Homo sapiens: one gene and its partners. The protein of the gene in region 1 interacts with the protein of each later gene in a biochemical or structural test. Each region holds a gene or a part of one and is shown in the gene's direction. Other genes may lie near its edges.

What was found. The genes of interacting proteins can lie anywhere in the genome.
Region 2: of the proteins of MAP3K3 (region 1) and PPP2R5A, one has a biochemical effect on the other in vitro, tested with the Homo sapiens proteins (one study listed by IntAct).
Region 3: of the proteins of MAP3K3 (region 1) and GLI1, one has a biochemical effect on the other in vitro, tested with the Homo sapiens proteins (one study listed by BioGRID).

The regions. Positions count from the first base shown.
Region 1 is NC_000017.11:63,625,403-63,632,424, forward strand, and holds part of MAP3K3 (mitogen-activated protein kinase kinase kinase 3), read left to right. Parts: intron 1-7,022. UniProt on the Homo sapiens protein: Component of a protein kinase signal transduction cascade. Mediates activation of the NF-kappa-B, AP1 and DDIT3 transcriptional regulators.
Region 2 is NC_000001.11:212,344,405-212,351,426, forward strand, and holds part of PPP2R5A (serine/threonine-protein phosphatase 2A 56 kDa regulatory subunit alpha isoform), read left to right. Parts: intron 1-1,398; coding exon 1,399-1,529; intron 1,530-2,942; coding exon 2,943-3,002; intron 3,003-3,984; coding exon 3,985-4,093; intron 4,094-4,784; coding exon 4,785-4,838; intron 4,839-7,022. UniProt on the Homo sapiens protein: The B regulatory subunit might modulate substrate selectivity and catalytic activity, and might also direct the localization of the catalytic enzyme to a particular subcellular compartment.
Region 3 is NC_000012.12:57,454,831-57,462,801, forward strand, and holds the start of GLI1 (zinc finger protein GLI1), read left to right. Parts: upstream 1-4,954; 5' UTR 4,955-5,371; intron 5,372-5,446; exon of another isoform or gene 5,447-5,725; intron 5,726-7,912; exon of another isoform or gene 7,913-7,971. Other genes in the region: INHBE (inhibin beta E chain preproprotein), read left to right, coding at 707-1,004, 1,264-2,018. UniProt on the Homo sapiens protein: Acts as a transcriptional activator. Binds to the DNA consensus sequence 5'-GACCACCCA-3'. Regulates the transcription of specific genes during normal development.

The DNA.
Region 1 (7,022 bases):
CATAATACCTGAGATTGTTTATGTGGTCTTTTTATAAACGCAGTCTGAAACTTTATATATCACTGAAAAATATGTAACAACTTGGAAATGCTACAGGAAACTATAGTGAATGGAGTACAGGATTACAGATGATCTGGTTCTGGTTTGAAGTCAGAATTATTGTGACTTACAGACACCTTGTCTAGGGTTCCAAGGCTGTTAGGAGCTCCCTGTTAGAATAGTCTCAATTCAGTTTGGCTAGAATCTGACCACCTATGTAGACTCTGAATAGTTAGCAGCTGTTTTGATTGAAATTTGAATCACAGTTTAATAAATCAACATGGCTATGTCATTACTAGATTTCTGATATTTTTAAAAATGACAGTTGGATTTTAAAACTGAATTTTAGGTTGGGCATGGTGGCTTACACCTATAATCCCAGCACTTTGGGAAGCTGAGACTGGTAGATCGCTTGAGCCCAGGAGTTCGAGAGCAGCCTGGGCAACATGGTGAAACCCTGTCTCTACTAAAAACACACAAACTTAGCTGGGCGTAGTGGCATGCCCCTATAGTCCCAGTTACCCAGGAGACCGAGGTGGGAAGATCATCTGAGCCTGGGAGGTTGAGGCTGCAGTGAACCATGATCGTGTCACTGCACTCCAGCCCAGGCAACAAGAGTGAGAGACCCTGTCTCTAAAACAAAAAACAAACAAAAAATAGCTGAATTTTAGGCATCTGTAAAAAGTAAGTATCTGTCCAACTGAGCATTACTTAGGGGAATACACAGAGGATAAGATGAGGTTTTTCTGGTTCTATGGAAGCTGTTAATTTATTCTTTGCCCATTTGTTGAATGCCTCCTATGTGCCAGGCATAGTATTAAGCCCTGTGCCTGTGTTATCCTGTCCTCAAGAAGTTACAGTTAGGTAAGGTGAAGCAGAAACATGTAAACAATTAAGTGCAAAAGTGTGTAAAGATATACAGGAGAGAGATCAATTCTGTCGTTTTGGTATTGACACATGTAATTCTATAGTCTCCAGTCCTTTGGGTTAATTTCACTAAACGTTAAAATGTAGTGGTGATATATATTGATTCTTATGAGGAATAAATGGCCTACTTTATAATATGTGTTTTAAGAATTTGAACCATCAATTAATATTGAATGCCTATTATATCTTAGAACAGAAAAACGCCAGCATTTGACTTTGAGATTTAGCAAAGGTTCAACCATTTCTTGAAGGATAAAAGTTTCTTATGAATTGAGGGTCTGGCCTTATTGCATATACTCATTGTAAAATGATGTTTGCCTGGGCATGGACAGGGTGGAGGCAGTGGAAGTATGTGGAATGTCATGAAGAGAAAGTAAAATCTGACTCAGGGACACTGAAGCACAGACTCTCCTGAGTGGGCAGTGCGATCAGACGATCTGGTGGAGCTGGGTAGAACATTGTCAAGATGAAGAAATAACATCATTAGTTAAATGAAACAAAACAAAGATTAAAACATTACTTTGGGGATTGTATCTATGGAAAAGAGAGAGAGTGTGTGGCATAGTAAACAGACACCATACGGGATAACAATGTTTATTAGAGAATGTGGTGCTTCTGGCAACTTTTCTGGGTTGTTAGCCAAGGGAACTCACAAATGGGAAGTGCCTTAAGACCCTGCTTTGAGATACAAGTAATAGCTCAGTCTGGAAGAGTGGCTTCCTGCTGGAGCTAAAGAGAGGAGTATGTTGCCTGGCAGCCTCCATACCACAGGTTGGGGTACCAGGAGAAGAAAAACTACATGCCACTGGGGAATTACTTAAAACTGCCTAAGAGCTTCTACTTTTTAAGCCTGAACTCTAATCCTTGTTTGATAGATCCTTTTCTAGTTCCATGAATACTCCTCCTTTTCCTAGATTCTTAACCTCTTAATCTCTAAAATTAACCTCTTTCTCCTTATGCTTCTTCCTGGTAGCTTCTAAGTGTGTCAGACCACTCCCACTCTCAGGAAATCTTTTCAAAGTTATAAGCACACTATTACGCTACCTCAACTTGTTCACGTGTAAAGTTCACAAATACTTTTTTTTTTTTTTTGGGGTGGAGTTTTGCCCTGTCACCTAGGCTTGAGTGCAGTGGCACGATCTCAGTTCACTGCAACCTCTGCCTCCCGGGTTCAAGCAATTCTCCTACCTCAGCCTCCCGAGTAGCTGGGATTACAGGCACCGGCCACCATGCCTGGCTAATTTTGTATTTTTAGTAGAGACAGGGTTTCACCATGTTGGCCAGGCTAGTCTTGAACTCCTGACTGCAGCTGATCCACCCTCCTCGGCCTCCCAAAGTGCTAGGATTACAGGCATGAGCCATCGTGCCTGGCCATGACTAATTTTTTGTATTTTTTGTAGAGATGGGGTTTTGCCATGTTGCCCAAGCTGGTCTCAAACTCCTGGGATCAAGTGATATGCCCGCCTTGGCTTCCCAGAATGTTGGACTTACAGGTGTGAGCCAATGCGCCCGGCCTGTCACTCTTATTTTCTTCAATCCTTTTTTTTTTTTTCTGAGACAGAGTCTCTACTCTGTCGCCCAGGCTGGAATGTGTTGGCATAGTCTTGGCTCACTGCAACCTCTGCCTCCCAGGTTCAAGCTATTCCCATGCCTCAGCCTCCACAGTAGTTGGGATTACAGGTGTGCACCACCACGCCCAGCTAATTTTTGTATTTTTAGTAGTGATGAGGTTTCACCATGTTGACCAGGCTGGTCTTGAACTCCTGACCTCAGGTGATCTGCCTGCCTCGGCCTCCCAAAGTGCTGAGATTACAGGTGTGAGCCACCACGCCCAGCCAGCTTGCTTTTCTTAAAGAATCTTTAGTCTGTTAACAATTATGTAAAATCATCCATATAACCTCTTATATAACCATATAAGCTACTCATATTTAAAAATATTTATTTTTATACATTTGTATTTATATACTCTGGTTTATATATTGTCTAATTCTGTCTTTTTTTTTTTTTTTGAGACGGAGTTTCGCTCTTGTTGCCCAGGCTGGAGTGCAATGGCACCATCTTGGCTCACCGCAACCTCCGCCTCCCAGCTTGAAGCAGTTCTCCTGCCTCAGCCTCCCGTGTAGATGGGATTACAGGCATGTGCCACCACGCCCAGCTAATTTTGTAGTTTTAGTAGAGACGGGGTTTCTCCATGTTGGTCAGGCTGTTCTCGAACCCCTAACCTCAGGTGATCCACCTGCCTTAGCCTCCCAAAGTGCTGGGATTACAGGCGTGAGCCCCTGGGCCCTGCCAATTCTATCTTTTTTTTCATACAACTTTGTATTTGTGTGTTGTTTATCTTTTTATCCCTAGAGTTTGAACACCTTGAAATATCTTTTAAAACTTTCTAATGTGTAATACAAGATAAGTATTCAGTAAATTGTTGTTAATGATTTATAAAAGTTCAGTAATAAAATTAAGTATTAGGGTAGATTAAATGGCCTCCAGTCTTTTTCCATTGACCTTTTCTCATTGATGATAATAATAGCCAGCATTTTTTTAGCATTACTGTGTTAGGTACCATAAGAAATAATTCGTAGGTTTTCTGTTGCTTTTAACTCCCACAGCAGCTTTGTGAAATGATGCTTTATCTCCATTTTACAGATGAGGAAATTGAGGTTTGGAGAGAATAAATGATTTGCTCAGGGCCTCCTTACCAAATTTTTCTGACTCTGAAGTTCATATTCCTAACTGCTTCAGTCTAAGAAAGTTGTTATTTGTTGTTTTTTTTTTTGAGATGGAGTCTCGCCCTGTCGCCATGCTGGAGTTCAGTAGCGCTATCTCAGCTCACACCAACCTCCGCCTCCTGTGTTCAGGCAATTCTCCTGCCTCAGCCTCCCAAGTAGCTGGGATTACAGGCGCACACCACCACGCGCAGTTAATTTTTTTGTATTTTTAGTAGAGACGGGGTTTCACCATGTTGGCCAGGCTGGTTTCGAACTCCTGACCTCAAGTGATCCACGCATCTTGGCCTCCCAAAGTGCTAGAATTACAGGCGTGAGCCTCTGCGCCCAGCCTGTTATTTGTTTTTAAAAGTTTTGTTTGTTTTTAAAGAATGCCACATTGGAGGAGTGCTGATAATTCAGTTAGTCTCAGTCCATACCACAGAGATAACTGGCTTGTGGCAGCCAAGTGTGCATAGTGATGTTGCTTTTTAGAAGGAAAAAAAACAAAAACAAAACCTCAATCCAGGAAGAAATGCCTAAAAGAGCCACTTGATTTACTTCCTGTCTTTATACATGTCCTCTGAAGTATCAGTTGAAGAACCTGTCTACCTCTAGGAATGTATTTTACTTTGACACAAAATTAGATTCTATAACCCTGATTCACTTGTGTCAGTTGTCCCAGATTTCAGATGACAGTGCCAAACTTTTCCACTAGTGTGTTCTCAGCTCTGGAACTACTAAACAAGTTTGTTCATTAAGTAATGCCAGGAATTGGTTAGCTTCCTGGAAACAGAATTTGTCAACCTGATAAACCAGCTCTTATAATAGCGTCATCTTATACAGAATTAGAAATGATTTCTTCAGTCATACTTGTGGATCTGACTTGAAAAGTGGTGTGTGTATGTGTGTGCCTGTATGTGTATTCACATCCATCTTTGTTCAATATCTGAGTTGAAAGAACTGAAAATTCTCAATACTTAGGGTGGTTAATGTTGTTACTGATAACTCCTTGCATTCCGCTTTTAGGAGTATTGTTGGATGCTCCTCAGAAAACACTTAAACCTAGTCATAATCCTCCTTGTATTGATCCCAATTTATTATTACAGTTGGCCCAATTTTATATATATTTAATAATATCTAAGCCATTTAATATATAAACCTATACATATTATATATAAGCCAATCTTCCTAGCTTAGATGTTATGCTCTAGTTTTTAAAGTTTGGTTGTGAGGATAAAAATCAAAACAAAAAACCAAGTTCCCTTTTTGTTTTTGGGACAGGGTCTCACTGTCGCCCAGGCTGAAGTACAGTGGCATGATCATGGCTCACTGCAGCCTCAACCTCCTGGGCTCAAGTGATCCTTCCACCTAAGCCTCTCAAGTAGCTGAGCCTACAGCGTGCACCACCATGCCCAGCTAATTTTTTGTATTTTTTGTAGAATGTAGTTTTGCCATGTTGCCCAGTCTGGTCTCGAACTCCTGGGCTCAAGCAATCCACCTGCCTCAGCCTCCCAAAGTGCTGGGATTACAGGCATGAGCCACCCTGTCCAGCCAGGTTCCCTTCTTTAAAGAAGCTATAGGGAAATTGTAGAAGGTATAAAATAATTGATGGGATATATATGTGTTAATTTGACAGATGTCTTTTTGTAGATACCCACTTTCTCCTCATTCATTATCCCCTTTACTGCATGCTTTCTATATTACAGCTATGTCACTCTCATACATACTTTTGTATATGTTTTGAAGTGGAATCATATGGGAAGTTATGCTCCTGGTGGTTTTCCTGCAAGTTTTAAATCTAATTTTACTTTCCTGAACAAGCAAAAACCTCTTTATAGGCAACTTTGTCCTTTTCTGTACCTCGTCAGAGGGCATATAGGGCACCAGAGCAGATTTCGTCTAGGAAGAGGGGAGAGGCAAATAAGGTGAGGGGCCAGGCACGGTGGCTTATGTCTGTAATCCCAGCATTTTGGGAGGCTAAGGAGGGAGGATCGCTTGAGCTCAGGTGTTTGAAATCAGCCTGGGCAACATGGTGAAACCCTCGCTCAATAAAAAATACAAAAATTAGCAGGGCATGGTGGTGTGCACCTGTAGTCCCAGCTACTCTGGAGGCTGAGGTGGAGGATTGTTTGAGCCTGGGGGTGGAGGAGGCTGCAGTGAGCTGTGATTGCACCACTGCACTCTAGCCTGGGCAACAGAGTGAAACCCTGTTTCAGTCAGTCAGTCAATCAGTTAATCAGTAGTGGGAGAAGAGACTTGAGCAGTTTTACTTCCTACATTTCATGCTGTTCGTTTCTTTCCACAGGGTATTAGAATATTTCCAAGGGACAGTGATAAAGGGTAGAAGATAGGCACTCTCTTTGGGTGGAATCTTTTGTATTTGCTTCTTTTAAGGTGTGCCCCAAGTCCCCAAATGGCTCAGTTGTCACCAAAGCAAGTGTAACAACTCATCCCTCATGTTCCCTTCACGATCAACAGATTTATTCATTTTCAATCTCCAAATGCTATTTGAATGGGCAAAGATCTCTTAAAGGACCTGGGAAAAATTTGTACAACATGGAATTGGACTGGTTTGTGTTCTGGGTTTTGGCCAGTTGTTTTCAATGTATGAGAACTCTAGTACTCCATGCTATTTCAAGAAAAGGGGATTAAAAGTAATGCCAGTAAGGTGGAGACAATGCATTGCTTGGTCAGCTTAGGGAGGAAAAACAATAGAACTACCCTTTGACTTCCCCATGGGAAGTAGTAGGCCTATAAACTTGTAAAGAGTTGTGGGGGTTGCTGGTGGTGGCGGCATTCAAATGCTAGGCTTGTAAAACAACTTCTGTTCAAAGCAGTTACCTGAGGCCCTTATTTGGTACCTTTTAAAGTGTGCTCTCCTCCTTATGATGCTTTAAGAATAAGTCTGGGACTGACACTGTGCCATAATCCTCTCTCTATGGATTCATCTTTTCATTCAGTACCATATTACATTGTACTGTGTTCTTCACTTCAATTTTTCATCTATTTTTCCTGGTTAAGTTTCTCTGGCACTGGACCAACTGCCCTGTTTGAGCGTGTCCCTTCCCTGCAATGAATTGGTAAATATTGCTGCAGGAAATCTGATTGGAGGGCTATTAAGAAACCATTAAAGGCCAGGCATGGTGGCCCACACCTGTATGTAATCTTAGCACTTTGGGAGGCCGAGGCAGGAGGATCACTGGAGTCCAGGAGTTGGAGACCAGCCTGGGCAACATGGGGAGACCCCGTCTCTACAAAAAATAAAAAAATCATCCAGGCATGGTGGTGCATGCCTGTGTTCCCAGCTACTCAGGAGGCTGATGTGGGAAGGTCACTTGAGCCCCAGAGTTG
Region 2 (7,022 bases), on another chromosome or scaffold:
TAAGTATGGCAGTTGTTTTGGGAGATATAAATATGATTTAAGTCATCCACTCTGGTTTCAGATGCATGTGTTAGCAATTGTATATAATTCAAAACAAAATGGAATAAGAACTTCTGATGAGGTTCAGAGCTTGCTATCTTTATTGTAATTATAAACACGAAAGTTCAGAACATAAAATTCCTTGACAGCTTTACAGATACTTGTACTCTAGAGAGAGTATTTTATATTTTTCTAAGAAAATCCAATGTTTAAAATACAGTGTTTTTTTTGACAGAAGAAATTAAGTTTCTTTACCATTTTAAATGGAAATTTGAGATTTTGACTTTAACTTTTTCTAAAGTCTCTTCTCTCAGGTTTTGCTGAAAAGTTGTGCAGAATATAGGAGTACACTGATTGGGCCAATTGAGGTATAGGAGAGTGCTGACTGTGGAACTGGTTTAAAATTTTTCAGCTATTTGCTAAGCTGAAAAATCTATGGGCTGGGCATAGTGGCTCACGCCTATAATCCTGGCACTTTGGGACACCGAGGAGGGTGGATCGCTTGAACTCAGGAGTTTGAGACCAGCCTGGGCAACATGGTGAAACCCCGTCTCTACCAAAAAATATATAAATTAGCTGGGTGTGGTGGCATGTGCCTGTAGTCCCAGCTAGTTGGGAGGCTGAGGCAGGAGGATCTTCTGACCCCAGGAGGTCGAGGCTGCAGTGAGTTGTGATTGCATCACTACCCTCCAGTCTAGGCTACAGAGCAAGACTGTCTTAAAAAAAAAAAAAAAAAAATTTGGCCTCATCTTTTAGTCCAGTGTTATTTTATATATGATTTCTACTCTATTAGTATGTATCTGCCAATATTTTATTCTAATAACTGAATGTTAATTTTTCAAATGTCTGCATGGTAACTGTCTTGAATTTATTGTAAATTCACAAAAAGAAGTCTTAGTATATGTACATCTTTCTAGTAAACTAGAAATATACATTTACACATGGATCTTTTTAAGACTATTTGATGACTTGCAATCTAAAAACTTAAACGATTTTCTATGTAGTTTTGACGATCAAAAAGCATTAAAAATCCCAAATTTTAACACTCCAAAATTGTGAGCCTCTTTAGTATTCAAGAGTAGGATTGAATTTTAAAATCAGTGGGAAGGTAAAGAAAAATCCACTTTTTGAAATATTTATATTTATTGTAAATGTCATATTTTGAAGTGAAATAAGTGAGAAGAAATATTTCCTAAGCTTTTCCTCACCTTCATTACTTAGCAAGAATAAAGTCAGTGTGGTAAGGAAGAACTCTAAAAAATTTTTAAAAGATGTCATGGATAATCTTTAAGATCAAAATTAGAATAAAGCTTTAGCTCGATTATTTTTTAAAAGTAATTTCTCAGGTTTCTTTTAAAGCTCCTGGAGCTTTTTGATAGTGAAGATCCCAGAGAACGTGACTTCCTGAAGACTGTTCTGCACCGAATTTATGGGAAATTTCTTGGATTAAGAGCATTCATCAGAAAACAAATTAACAACATTTTCCTCAGGTAAATTAATCATTTATTGTATATTGCACCTTTTCCTCCTACATATCTTCTTGTATTCAAGTTCTTTTATTTTTATTTGTTTTTTTGAGACAGGGTCTCACTCTGTCATCCAGGCTGGAGTGCAGTGGTGAGAACATAGCTCATTGTAGCCCCCATCTCCCAGACTCAAGCAATCTTCCTCTCTCAGCCTGCCAAGTAGTGAGACTACAGGTGTGCACCACCACGCCTGGGTAATTTTTTTGACTTTTAGTAGAGACAAGGTCTATGTACTGTATGTACGTAGTATATATATGTAACATATATATGTAACATAGTATATATGTGTAACATATATATGTAACGTAGTATATATGTAACATACTATGTATGTTGCCCAGGCTGGTCTTGAACTCCTGAACTCAAGCAGTCCTCTTATATGGGGCCTATCATTTGCTTGTAGTCATCCCTCAGTATCTGGGGAGGATTGATTCCAGGGCCCCTGCTAATAGCAGAATCCAAAGTCCCTTATATAAAATGGCACAGTATTTGCATATAACGTCCACACATCCTCCTGTATACTTTATTTCTAGATTACTTACAATACTTAATACAGTGTGAATGCTGTGCAAATAGATGTTATTCTATATTTTAAATTTGTATTTATTTTTCAAAAATATTTTTGATCTGTAGTTGGTTGAATGCACAGATAATGAAACCTGCGGATACAGGGCCAAGTGTACTTTATAAATATTAATCTGTTAAGTAGTTGCTTCAGATCAGGAGATTTCATAACAACACCCACATTCAAGGTTTGGTTTGTTTAATTAATTGAAGATCTGGCAAAATTTGGTTACTATTCCCACATTGCAACAATTAGAGATGAGTAATATCTGCCTCCTCTAGAGTGAATATCTTTCTCCAGTTCTCTGTCATCACTTCCTAAGCCCATTTCAAATATCTGCCCTATTATATTTATGTCTCCCTGCTTTAAAGGCAGCCCTAATCTTGGAAAGCTATGCAGCCTATATAGTTAGAGGTGTAAAGAAATTCTGATTAAAAATGGCTTTATTACATATGGGTCTTTTTCTCTTGGATTTCCCTATAATTAGAGGTTTCTTATTTTAAAAAGTATTTCTTTGAGGAAACTTATCTTTCTTATTAATTATTAAGTTGAATATTCCAGGTGAAATGACAATCTGTTATCTTCACATATGGCGAGTTTTGGCAAAGGCATATGTAGTTCAGTAGGAAACATCTTCTTTTTTAAGATTGATATGAATTAACTGTTTGGGGCAAAACTGCTTATAAGACCCAAAACATGCTTGTGTGTTTCTAATAGCTGTCCTTTGGATTGATTTCTTCACCCTCCTGCCTGTTTCTCTTAGTTTTCTGAAGTTTGATTTTGATTACATCTTGTCTTTATTTTAAATTCAGGTTTATATATGAAACAGAACATTTCAATGGTGTTGCTGAACTTCTTGAAATATTAGGAAGGTAGGTCAGGTTTTTTTGTTCTTTTTAAGAATTAAGTAAGTGAATGTTTTATGTATTAAAATCTTAGCTGGGGTTGGAGAAATTATGTCATATTTTAGAGTTTAAATGTAGAACACATAGTTTCTCAACTGAAGTCTTTTTTTTTTTTTTGAGACGGAGTTTCGCTCTTGTTGCCCAGGCTGGAGTGCAATGGCGCGTTCTCGGCTCACTGCAACCTCTGCCTCCCGGGTTCAAGAGATTCCCCAGCCTCAGCCTCCTGAGTAGCTGGGATTACAGGTGCCTGCCACCACACCCAACGAATTTTTTAATTTTTATTTTTAGTAGCGATGGGGTTTCACCGTGTTGGCCAGGCTGGTCTTGAACTCCTGACCTCAGGCAATCCACCCCCTTCGGCCTCCCACAGTGCTGGGATTACAGGCGTGAGCCACCATGCCCAGCCTCAGCTGAATTCTTATTACCTTTTGCCATAACACTTTGCCTTCCTTATTCACTACGTATTAGTATTAAGAGAATTTTAGACCCTTCTGTTACTATTTAGACAATGATTTTAGTTTCCTTTATTAATAGTAGAAAATGATTGTGGAGAGAACTACTTCTTTCACGTTATCCAACAAAGTAAGAAAAATTACCCATTTACTTCAGAAAAATATTGAACATTCTAACAATATTGTGGTACTGACTCTCCTGGAGCTTTGGGGGCAAAAATAAAAGCAACAATGCATAAAGTGACAGGTTTGATAGAAAATGAAGATAGAAATTACTTGGGAATTAATTGACAGTCCTAATTTTCTTTTGGAATCATCAAATGACTTAGAGGAACAGACTTCATAGTAATAGTCTTCCTAAAGTAGTTTGAAGATGAGCAGTCATACAACACCAGGATTGAAGCATAGCACTGTTCCTTATGTACTCATGGATATGACAGCTTTTAGAAACAAAGTAGTAACTACTTAACCCTTCCCCTGCCTTTTTTTCCCTCCAGTATTATCAATGGCTTTGCATTGCCACTGAAAGCAGAACATAAACAATTTCTAATGAAGGTTCTTATTCCTATGCATACTGCAAAAGGATTAGCTTTGTTTCATGCTCAGGTAAGTTTCAGAAACATTTCAGATGAAATGAATATTATTTCAAAGGCCAATATAAAGGCAGAGAAATTGAGAAATACTGAGATGACAGTTTTAAGTATAATTAAGCAATTTGCTTACAAAATTACCCAAAGCAAATTTTTCTTATTTTAAAGTATTTAGTTGTTAAGTAAGACCAATTATTTAATTTCTATATCTACACTTACAGTTTAAGATACACACTTTCCTCATATTATAGTCCAGGTCTTGACCTAATTATGTGACTTTGAATAAATCCCACATATCTACAGAATGTTTCTTCCAGCTGCAATAACCTAGACCTAGTTAGAGAGATTTTGGTCTCTTCTATTAATATTTAGAGAATAATATATCAGCATAGGTGTACATGTAGAAACATGCTGAAAAACTAAATTGTTAGCTCTAGTCTTATTTCAGTTAACTTTATAGTCAGAAATTACTACTAAAAATGTTTTTTAAACTTGAAGTTACTTTCAAGGCTAAAAAGTTACACAATTGTGAGTATAGTTTCACGATTGAGGTATTTCACAATTTCATTCACAGTTGTGAGTATATTTTTATATATTGGAATAATTTATCAAAATGAGGTAGTCTAAAAAATATTGGCTAAATATAAAAATCCTACATTATTAAATGTTATCTCACTAATATTTATAAACTGTCCCTTACCTTTTAGCTAGCATATTGTGTTGTACAGTTCCTGGAGAAAGATACAACACTAACAGAGCCAGTAAGTGTTCTATTTATTTTCATGTTTTTGGTCTGCATTAATAGCATTTCATTGTAGCTTTCGTTTTATAGCCTTTATAGTTATTAAGTAGAATAATGTACGTTAAGCTAAAATCATTTAGAAGAAGAAATGTGAGATTAATCTACATTAAAAGAAGGGGTTAGGAGGGGAGAGTTCTCGTGAGTTATGTCTTGAATAACCGAAATATAGACTACTATTAATATGTAGTAGTTAAGATGTACGATGATAGGATCAGATGACCACAGTGAAATTTTATATGCATACTGTCTTCACCAATAATCTTTTAAATCTTCATTCACCTTTTGGAATTAAAGCATACTTCGAGGGTCCCAAAACTACTACTCCCTTGAATTTTGTTTTGTTTTTAATAATAGAATTTTTGCCACTCATTAACAATAAACCACTTGATAGGGATAGAAAACATTTCCTTGCTTTTGGTGATTAAGATATAAGATGTAATCTTGGAATAAAAGTAGTTTATGAACCAGCAAGGCAACTTAGGCTTTGAATTCTACTGTTATTTGCCTCTAGAATGAAAATTCAGGAGAGAGTGAAAACATAATTAGTTATGAAAATTTACTGAGGATTCAAGAAAAACAAAAGATGAAGTAGGGTGAAACAGAAAAGTATAAAAGCATAGAAAACATTTTAACCTTGGTGAAGTAAGTATTTTGAGAGAATGCTTTCTAGGCATGTTCAGTCTAAATATTTACCTAGTATTAGGTTGGTACAAAAGTGATTGCGGCTTTTGCCATTACTTTTAATGGCAAAAACCACAATCACTTTAGCAGCAACCTAATAAATATTTAGTAAATAGCAAAGGGTTTGAAAAACTAAAATATATATGTATTTTTACTATATTATGAACCTTCTCAGGCTATCCGTAGGGATGCTTGAAAAAATCATATACTTAGTATTCTCCCTTTCACTTGAACTTTGTGTAATGGAACAAAAGACATTTTTCCACTCCTTAATTTTTATTAGTTTTTTGACTTTTAGATTTACAGTCTTTTCTAGAAACAGCTGTAAACAGTTTTTGAAGACAATTCAGGAGAATTAGAAACCATATATTTGTACATGAAACCACATAAACCTCTGAAGTTGATTCCCAGGTGTGCAGTGGCTCACAACTGTAATCCCAGCACTTTGGGAGGCTGAGGCAGGCAGATAACTTGAGGCCAGGAGTTTGAGACCAGCCTGGCCAACATGGTGAAACCCTGTCTCTAGTTAAAATACAAAAATTAGCTGGGCATGGTGGCACAGGCCTGTGGTCCCAGCTACTCAGATGGCAAGGGCACAAGAATTGCTTGAATCCAGGAGGCGTAGGTTGCAGTGATCTGAGCTCATACCAGTGCACTCCAGCCTGGGCAACAGAGTGAGACTCTGTCTTCAAAAAAAAAAAGAAAAAAGTAAAACCTTAATACAAATCTATGATAACTCCCATTAGAATTAAGAAAAAGAAAACCCATAATAACACATATTGAAAAGTCATGGTTCATGCTTGGTAAATAGTATACAAATAAAATTTTATTTAATTAATTTGGGGTGGATAAGGAAGACAGGTGATTTATTTTTAAAGAATGGAAGATAGAGGCTGGGCATGGTGGTTCATGCCTGTAATCCCAGCACTTTGGGAGGCCGAGGCAGGCGGATCACCTCAGGTCAGGAGTTCAAGATCAGCCTGATCAACATGGTGAAACCCCATTTCTACTTAAAAAAAAAAAAAAAAAATTAGCTGGGCATGGTGGCGTGTGCCTGTAATCTCAGCTACTAGGGAGGCCGAGGCACAAGAATCACTTGAACCCTGGAGGCGGAGGTTACAGTGAGCCGAGATGACACAAAAAAAAAAACAAAAAAACAAAAAACCTTGACGATTAGGGAGAGGGATGATGGCCAGTTATTCAGCTTTTATCTGGTTTGGCTGAGTTGGGTTAATGAAAATAGGAGCAGGATGAGGAGAGAGAGTAAGATAAATACCCAGGTTAAGAAAGGAAAATATTTTCCAACTCATAAAGATCTCTCGATATAGAGATCTTGCAATTTCTAACATAGGCCATTCCAGCACCAAAATTACGGCCATATTACTTGGGTTTAAGCCTTAATACTAATTTTCTGGAAAGCAGGCATTCCTATCAAAGCTTTCTACAAATTATAAGTAGCTCA
Region 3 (7,971 bases), on another chromosome or scaffold:
AACCCTCATCCCTGTCCTAGCCCCAGTGCTAGAAATAAAGAGACCAGAATTTTCCTTCTGGCCTAAGGGCCCCAGAGGAATACCCACTGGAACTCACAGCTGCCTCATGGAAACTGCTGCAGCAGTGGTGAAGCTAGAAAGACTAGAGGTATGAGGGAAAATTGCCCTTCCCCACCTGGCTCATAAGGCGTTCCCTCCCCCAAGTCCCAGACCTTGGGGACTGAGCATGTGAAATCATCCTCTTTCTTGCATCATGCGTGTCCACATTGCACCCCCCCACCCCCATACCCCTACTTCAGGCCCAGTCACCATGGCCAGATGGTGAAACCTGAGCTGATGGGGAGGAGGACCTCCACCCCCTGCAGGGGCCTGATGGGCAGCACAGCTGGCCAATCCTGGGACTCAGAGGGTAGGTCGGCTGGCTGACCACTAGGTTTGGAAGACCCAGGCAGCTGGCTCTAAAGAGGCCCCAGGTCAGTAGCCAGACATGAGCTGTGAGGGTCAAGCACAGCTATCCATCAGATGATCTACTTTCAGCCTTCCTGAGTCCCAGACAATAGAAGACAGGTGGCTGTACCCTTGGCCAAGGGTAGGTGTGGCAGTGGTGTCTGCTGTCACTGTGCCCTCATTGGCCCCCAGCAATCAGACTCAACAGACGGAGCAACTGCCATCCGAGGCTCCTGAACCAGGGCCATTCACCAGGAGCATGCGGCTCCCTGATGTCCAGCTCTGGCTGGTGCTGCTGTGGGCACTGGTGCGAGCACAGGGGACAGGGTCTGTGTGTCCCTCCTGTGGGGGCTCCAAACTGGCACCCCAAGCAGAACGAGCTCTGGTGCTGGAGCTAGCCAAGCAGCAAATCCTGGATGGGTTGCACCTGACCAGTCGTCCCAGAATAACTCATCCTCCACCCCAGGCAGCGCTGACCAGAGCCCTCCGGAGACTACAGCCAGGGAGTGTGGCTCCAGGGAATGGGGAGGAGGTCATCAGCTTTGCTACTGTCACAGGTGGGTGAGGGAGAGAGCAACAGGCAAAGAGCAGACAGGGAAAGGGAGGCAGAAGGGGAGCCTGGCAGGAGCAGCAGAGGGAGTGGGGTGTGGCAGGAGAAGGAGGAGCTGGGGCAGGGACTGGTTGCAGAGGACACAAAGCAGTCTCTACTTTTCTAGAGGTAGGTTCGAGGGAGAGCAGTGGGCAGGGCTTGGGGAGTCTCAGAGGAGAGCTTCATCTCTACTCACATTTTCTTTCCCTTTTCTGTCTTTCGGGCAGACTCCACTTCAGCCTACAGCTCCCTGCTCACTTTTCACCTGTCCACTCCTCGGTCCCACCACCTGTACCATGCCCGCCTGTGGCTGCACGTGCTCCCCACCCTTCCTGGCACTCTTTGCTTGAGGATCTTCCGATGGGGACCAAGGAGGAGGCGCCAAGGGTCCCGCACTCTCCTGGCTGAGCACCACATCACCAACCTGGGCTGGCATACCTTAACTCTGCCCTCTAGTGGCTTGAGGGGTGAGAAGTCTGGTGTCCTGAAACTGCAACTAGACTGCAGACCCCTAGAAGGCAACAGCACAGTTACTGGACAACCGAGGCGGCTCTTGGACACAGCAGGACACCAGCAGCCCTTCCTAGAGCTTAAGATCCGAGCCAATGAGCCTGGAGCAGGCCGGGCCAGGAGGAGGACCCCCACCTGTGAGCCTGCGACCCCCTTATGTTGCAGGCGAGACCATTACGTAGACTTCCAGGAACTGGGATGGCGGGACTGGATACTGCAGCCCGAGGGGTACCAGCTGAATTACTGCAGTGGGCAGTGCCCTCCCCACCTGGCTGGCAGCCCAGGCATTGCTGCCTCTTTCCATTCTGCCGTCTTCAGCCTCCTCAAAGCCAACAATCCTTGGCCTGCCAGTACCTCCTGTTGTGTCCCTACTGCCCGAAGGCCCCTCTCTCTCCTCTACCTGGATCATAATGGCAATGTGGTCAAGACGGATGTGCCAGATATGGTGGTGGAGGCCTGTGGCTGCAGCTAGCAAGAGGACCTGGGGCTTTGGAGTGAAGAGACCAAGATGAAGTTTCCCAGGCACAGGGCATCTGTGACTGGAGGCATCAGATTCCTGATCCACACCCCAACCCAACAACCACCTGGCAATATGACTCACTTGACCCCTATGGGACCCAAATGGGCACTTTCTTGTCTGAGACTCTGGCTTATTCCAGGTTGGCTGATGTGTTGGGAGATGGGTAAAGCGTTTCTTCTAAAGGGGTCTACCCAGAAAGCATGATTTCCTGCCCTAAGTCCTGTGAGAAGATGTCAGGGACTAGGGAGGGAGGGAGGGAAGGCAGAGAAAAATTACTTAGCCTCTCCCAAGATGAGAAAGTCCTCAAGTGAGGGGAGGAGGAAGCAGATAGATGGTCCAGCAGGCTTGAAGCAGGGTAAGCAGGCTGGCCCAGGGTAAGGGCTGTTGAGGTACCTTAAGGGAAGGTCAAGAGGGAGATGGGCAAGGCGCTGAGGGAGGATGCTTAGGGGACCCCCAGAAACAGGAGTCAGGAAAATGAGGCACTAAGCCTAAGAAGTTCCCTGGTTTTTCCCAGGGGACAGGACCCACTGGGAGACAAGCATTTATACTTTCTTTCTTCTTTTTTATTTTTTTGAGATCGAGTCTCGCTCTGTCACCAGGCTGGAGTGCAGTGACACGATCTTGGCTCACTGCAACCTCCGTCTCCTGGGTTCAAGTGATTCTTCTGCCTCAGCCTCCCGAGCAGCTGGGATTACAGGCGCCCACTAATTTTTGTATTCTTAGTAGAAACGAGGTTTCAACATGTTGGCCAGGATGGTCTCAATCTCTTGACCTCTTGATCCACCCGACTTGGCCTCCCGAAGTGATGAGATTATAGGCGTGAGCCACCGCGCCTGGCTTATACTTTCTTAATAAAAAGGAGAAAGAAAATCAACAAATGTGAGTCATAAAGAAGGGTTAGGGTGATGGTCCAGAGCAACAGTTCTTCAAGTGTACTCTGTAGGCTTCTGGGAGGTCCCTTTTCAGGGGTGTCCACAAAGTCAAAGCTATTTTCATAATAATACTAACATGTTATTTGCCTTTTGAATTCTCATTATCTTAAAATTGTATTGTGGAGTTTTCCAGAGGCCGTGTGACATGTGATTACATCATCTTTCTGACATCATTGTTAATGGAATGTGTGCTTGTATGGTCTTGTGTTACAGTCTTTTTCAGTTTTAATTTCTAATGTGGTGAATTGATAGATGTAAATCATATGAACAAAAGCTCAATGATTTTTTTTTTTTTGAGACGGAGTCTCGCTCTGTCGCCCAGGCTGGAGTGCAGTGGCACAATCTCGGCTCACTGCAACCTCCACCTCCCAGGTTCAAGCGATTCTCCTGCCTCAGCCTCCTGAGTAGCTGGGACTACAGGCCTGCGCCACCATGCCCAGCTATTTTTTGTATTTTTAGTAGAGATGGGGTTTCACCATGTTGGCCAGGCTGGTCTCGGACTCCTGACTTGAGGTGATCCGCCTGCCTTGGCCTCCCAAAGTGCTGGGATTACAGGTCTGAGCCACTGTGCCTAACCTAATGACTTTTAAGAGTATAGAGGAAACCAAAAAGTTTGAGACTCACTGGTCTATAGAACTGGGTGGGGAGAAGAAAGTAAGGTGTTCTAAGAGAGCTCTTCTTGCTGGGCACCGGTGGTCCCAGCTACTTAGGAGGCTAAGGCCGGAAGACCGCTTAAACCCAGGAGTTCGAGGCTATGATCACACTTGTGAATAGCCTCTGCACTCCAGCCTGGGCAAATAGTGAGGCCCCGTCCCAAATAAAAATAAATAAATACATAAATACATAAATAGCTCCTCTGGAAGAAGGGGCTCGAGGCTGGGACAGGAGCATGTGTGGGGTGCCTTTTTTTCAGTGCCCATTAGTCTGGTCTGACTGAGCTGGGTCTCTGACCCTCTGGGGATAACTAGCCTGGGTCAAAGTCCCAGATCTCCCCCTACCTTCACCTTTTCTTTTCCCCCTTGACCCTCAGACTGAACAGTTAACCCACTGACCTTCCACACCCAAGGGGGTGGTTCTTGGAAGCAGAGCTAGGATGTGGGAGGTCTGCCTGTGGGGTTGAAAAAAAGGGGAGAGGGTGCCCTTTTTCCTTGTCATGCTTCCTCCTCTTTCTCATAAAAATCAGAGACTGAAATGCTGCCCCTCCCTTATATCCGGTCACGATGGCAATGCAAATCTAAAGAGGCAGGGCACTTCCCTGTCAGGCAGTACCGCTGGGCATAGCAACCTCTGCCTCTCCGTTTCTCAGAGCTCACATATCCACCTCCTGGGCTTTTAAGTGGGCTTTAGTGAGGGGCTCCTCCTTCAACTGGGCTCCTCCTTCAGTTCCCCAGCTCTTCTGCTTCGACTCCGAGCGGGTGTCATGTGTGAGAACGGCCAGCAGAGGGAGCAGAAAGCCTGGAAGAGCAGCTAGAGCCTGCAGTGACGTGGTGCGGAGGGGCGGCACCCTCCAGAACTTCGAGACGTAGAGCCGGGGTTCTAGGGAAAGGGGCTTCAGTCCCAGGGCTCCTTGGTGACCTCGTGAACCACACCCTGCACCCAGAGCCTCAGCCGCTGCTCCTTGCTTTTATGCTCCATAGACTCCTCACCTTCTTCCAGAGCCCCCAACCCAACTTGATTTGCCCCAAACCGCAACTCTGTCCCGGCCGCTGCAAGTTCCATCCAAAGGGTGAGGCCTGCAGATAAACCACAGGATGGCAGAATGCTCAGTTAGCACCAACCAAAGGCGACTACCCTACCTCCACTATTATCGTTCTCGGTTGAACTTCTCCCCCTGCCCCGCAATATTTTCCTCAATCTGGTTGTCGGGGCCTCTTTGGGGCCAGCCGATCCAGAAATCCAAGCCGGGATTTAGTACTCACCAACAGCAGCGTGTTCAGCCGGGGCGGGGGGGGGGGCGTAAGCAGTATAGGGTCCCTCAAGGGAGGGGGAGGATCCTGGGGGTCCTGGGGGTGCAATAAGCCCGGCACCCCTTCTCTTGCTTCCAGCTACCCCGCCTCATCCTCCAGAACGGCAAGAGGGAGGGAAATAGAAGGGAGGTGAGGGGCGAGCGGGAAGAGCGGCGGCGCGCCAGCGGCTGGAGAGAGAAAAAGTTTTTGCAAAAGGGAAAAAAAAAGTTTGCGCTTCTCGCGGGTGGTCCGGGCTTGCGGCCCGGCGGGCTGGGCCGGCGGGAGGGCTGGGGGCCAGGTTGGGGGGGTGGGGGTGGCATCGAGGCTGCGCTGCCGTGGCCCTCTCCGCCCCCCCTCCCCACCGCACACCCCCCAGCCCAGACTCCAGCCCTGGACCGCGCATCCCGAGCCCAGCGCCCAGACAGAGGTGAGAAGGGGGGGCAGGCGGGGGACCACCTGGGAGCAGTGGGGGAGGGGGCCTGAGGGGATGCTCAGCTTCTTAGGGACTCATCCCAGACCCGGGACATAGAGGCAAAATAGGGGTGGGAGAGCCTGGGGTGAGACATTAGAAACTCCAGATTTTTCACTTGTGTCTTTCTCTGTATCTTCTTTTTCTTCCCTTTTTTTCTTCTGTCAGTCTGTGTATCTCTGTCTCAGGGAACCGTGGGTCTTTGTCTCCGCCTCTCCCATATATTAGAAATATCTTACTTTCATGCGGTTAAGTTTAAGAGGCTGGAGGGATGGCTAGCTGGAGGTCTGCGTTGTAGAGAGGTAACCCCAGGTGTGTGTCTGCGCGTGGGGTAGGAAGATGTCAGTGTTTCTGAAAGGTGGGGACTGCAAAGGAGGGAGCTCCAGGTGGGGTGGGGACGGGTGTGTGGGAGGCAACAGAGCCACTAGGGGCCAGCCAGGCTTGAACCTTTGACCTGTCTTGTGACAGATGTGCCAGTGGATGCTTGTGCTTTAGGGGAAAGGAGTGTCTTCTGGACTTGGAAGGGGGCTGGGGCGGGGGGGGGCTGTCCAAGGTCTAGTGAAGGCCCTAGAATGACCCCATGCAATTTGGACTCCTGAGTCCCAAGGGCTGTGGGCAAGGAGCTCAGGAGGAGCCGGGGAGACCTTGTCTTGACCCTCTGACCTCAGGACCACCGGGGCAGCGGGAGCCAGCCGCAGGGAGACCCCTACCGGGGCTGGGCGGGACCACTGGCCACTGCCAGCCTGTGTATCCCCGTTGGCACCCCGCCCAAACGGGAGCTGGGGATCGAGGCCCCTCCTCTGGCTCAGACCACCCTGCCTGCCCTTGCTCCCCGCTCTGAATCCTCTTTCAGGTCCCATGACCCCGAAACAATCAGCACTGGGCAGCTAGCTTTCGGGACAGGATTACGGAAAGGGGACCCCGTAGAGCCTGGGGACTGAGGGTTTTAGGGGTCTGGAGAGCTGGGGTCTTCTAGGATAGGTCTTTACGTTCCAGTAGAGGGAGAAGGCGGGCGGTTTCCCGGGGGATATGTAAGGGTCGGAATAAGTGTGGTTTTCCCTAGGGGGCGGGGTCCAGAGACCTCTCCCCCTCCACCATTATCTCCCTGGCATCCCCGCCCTTGACGTCACCAGGGGGTTCCCGGGGGTCTGGAGGGGTTAACCCTTGGGAAGCCGGCTGCTATAACCAGCAACCTAAGGTGTCCGGGCCCCTCCTCCTCCCCATACACACCTAATTTTATTGACCCAGTCACTTTCTCTGCTTTCTCTCCCCTATACTTTCTGGATTCTTCTCCCTTTCTAACCCCACCAACGGGGACCCCCACTCTCCAGTAGTGCCCCCCTGGGCGCCACTGCCTGCTTTCCGGATGTGCTGAGAGGAGGAGGGAAGAATGTGGCCCGCCCCTCAGCCCCCACCCCTATGGCTCGCTCTACTGGGCTCCCGGGGCGGGTGGGGGGAGCGGAGCCGTCTGCAGCCAGTGCCTGCGGCGGCGACTTGGGTGGGCCGAGGAGGCACGGGGGCGGGGAAGGCGGGACCGGGAGTAGGGGGGCGGAGCCGACTCCTGGGAGTTGGGGAGCGGGGGTGCGAGGGGGACGCTGGAAAACAGGGAGACACCGAAGATGGTTTAGGGCTCCGGCAGGGGAACCCTAGAGCTCCCTGTCCCATCCCGAACTCTCACACCCCAGAAAAACTTTACCGAAGCTAAAAAAGTTGGCGACATTTTCCTTTTACTAGCCTGAAGGGGAGATATGGGTGGGCTGTGGAACGCGTGGGCGAGGAGGGGTGTAGCCCCATTTCCTTGGAGGCTCTTCGGCAGCTAGGCAGTGGGGCAGAAAGATGACTGAGTAGGCAAGTTTGGGGGAGTCTCTAGTGTTTGGGGGATCATTTGCAAACTTCCCTCCTTCCCCTGGGTGAGTCATAGAGGGAAGGAGGCGGGAGAATTGTCCCCCCATCCAGCTGCCAACCAGCTGTGCCCCCCGCCCCCCAACATTAGTTCCAAGGTCGAGTTGGGAGGTCTTGGATGCGGGATCCGCACCTCGGTTGGAAAAGGAGGAGTTAGAAAAGGGTACAGCCCAGGCTGCCGGGCCGGGCTGGGTCGCGGGGTCCGGGTTCCGCTCCCCATCTCACCCCGCCCTCACCCTAAATCCCAGCATCCCGGGATCACCCACCGCGCCGGCCGGCCCGGCCCGCTCCCGGTGGTTCTCCACCCCATCCCGCCCCACCCCACCCTCATTCCCGGGAGACTGGAAAACCCGGGATGGAGTCAAAACTGGAGTTTGAAAAGAAAAACGGACAGCAGCACCTTCTTCCTCGCTACGCTTTTATAAGGATCACATTGTTTTTTTCATTCTCTCAGAGTCTCCCCTCATACTTCCTTTCCTGTTCCCCCAAAACAGAGACCAAAAAGATTAGGTGGGCCTGATTTAAACTACCCCAGAATAACACCAGCTTTCACCTTTGTGCCCAACAGACCCAGAAGACTCCCCTCAGGAACCTTACCTCCTCCTCCACACTGTTTTCTGTCTAAGAGGGCAGATGGCTTGTGCTCCCTCCTGGCC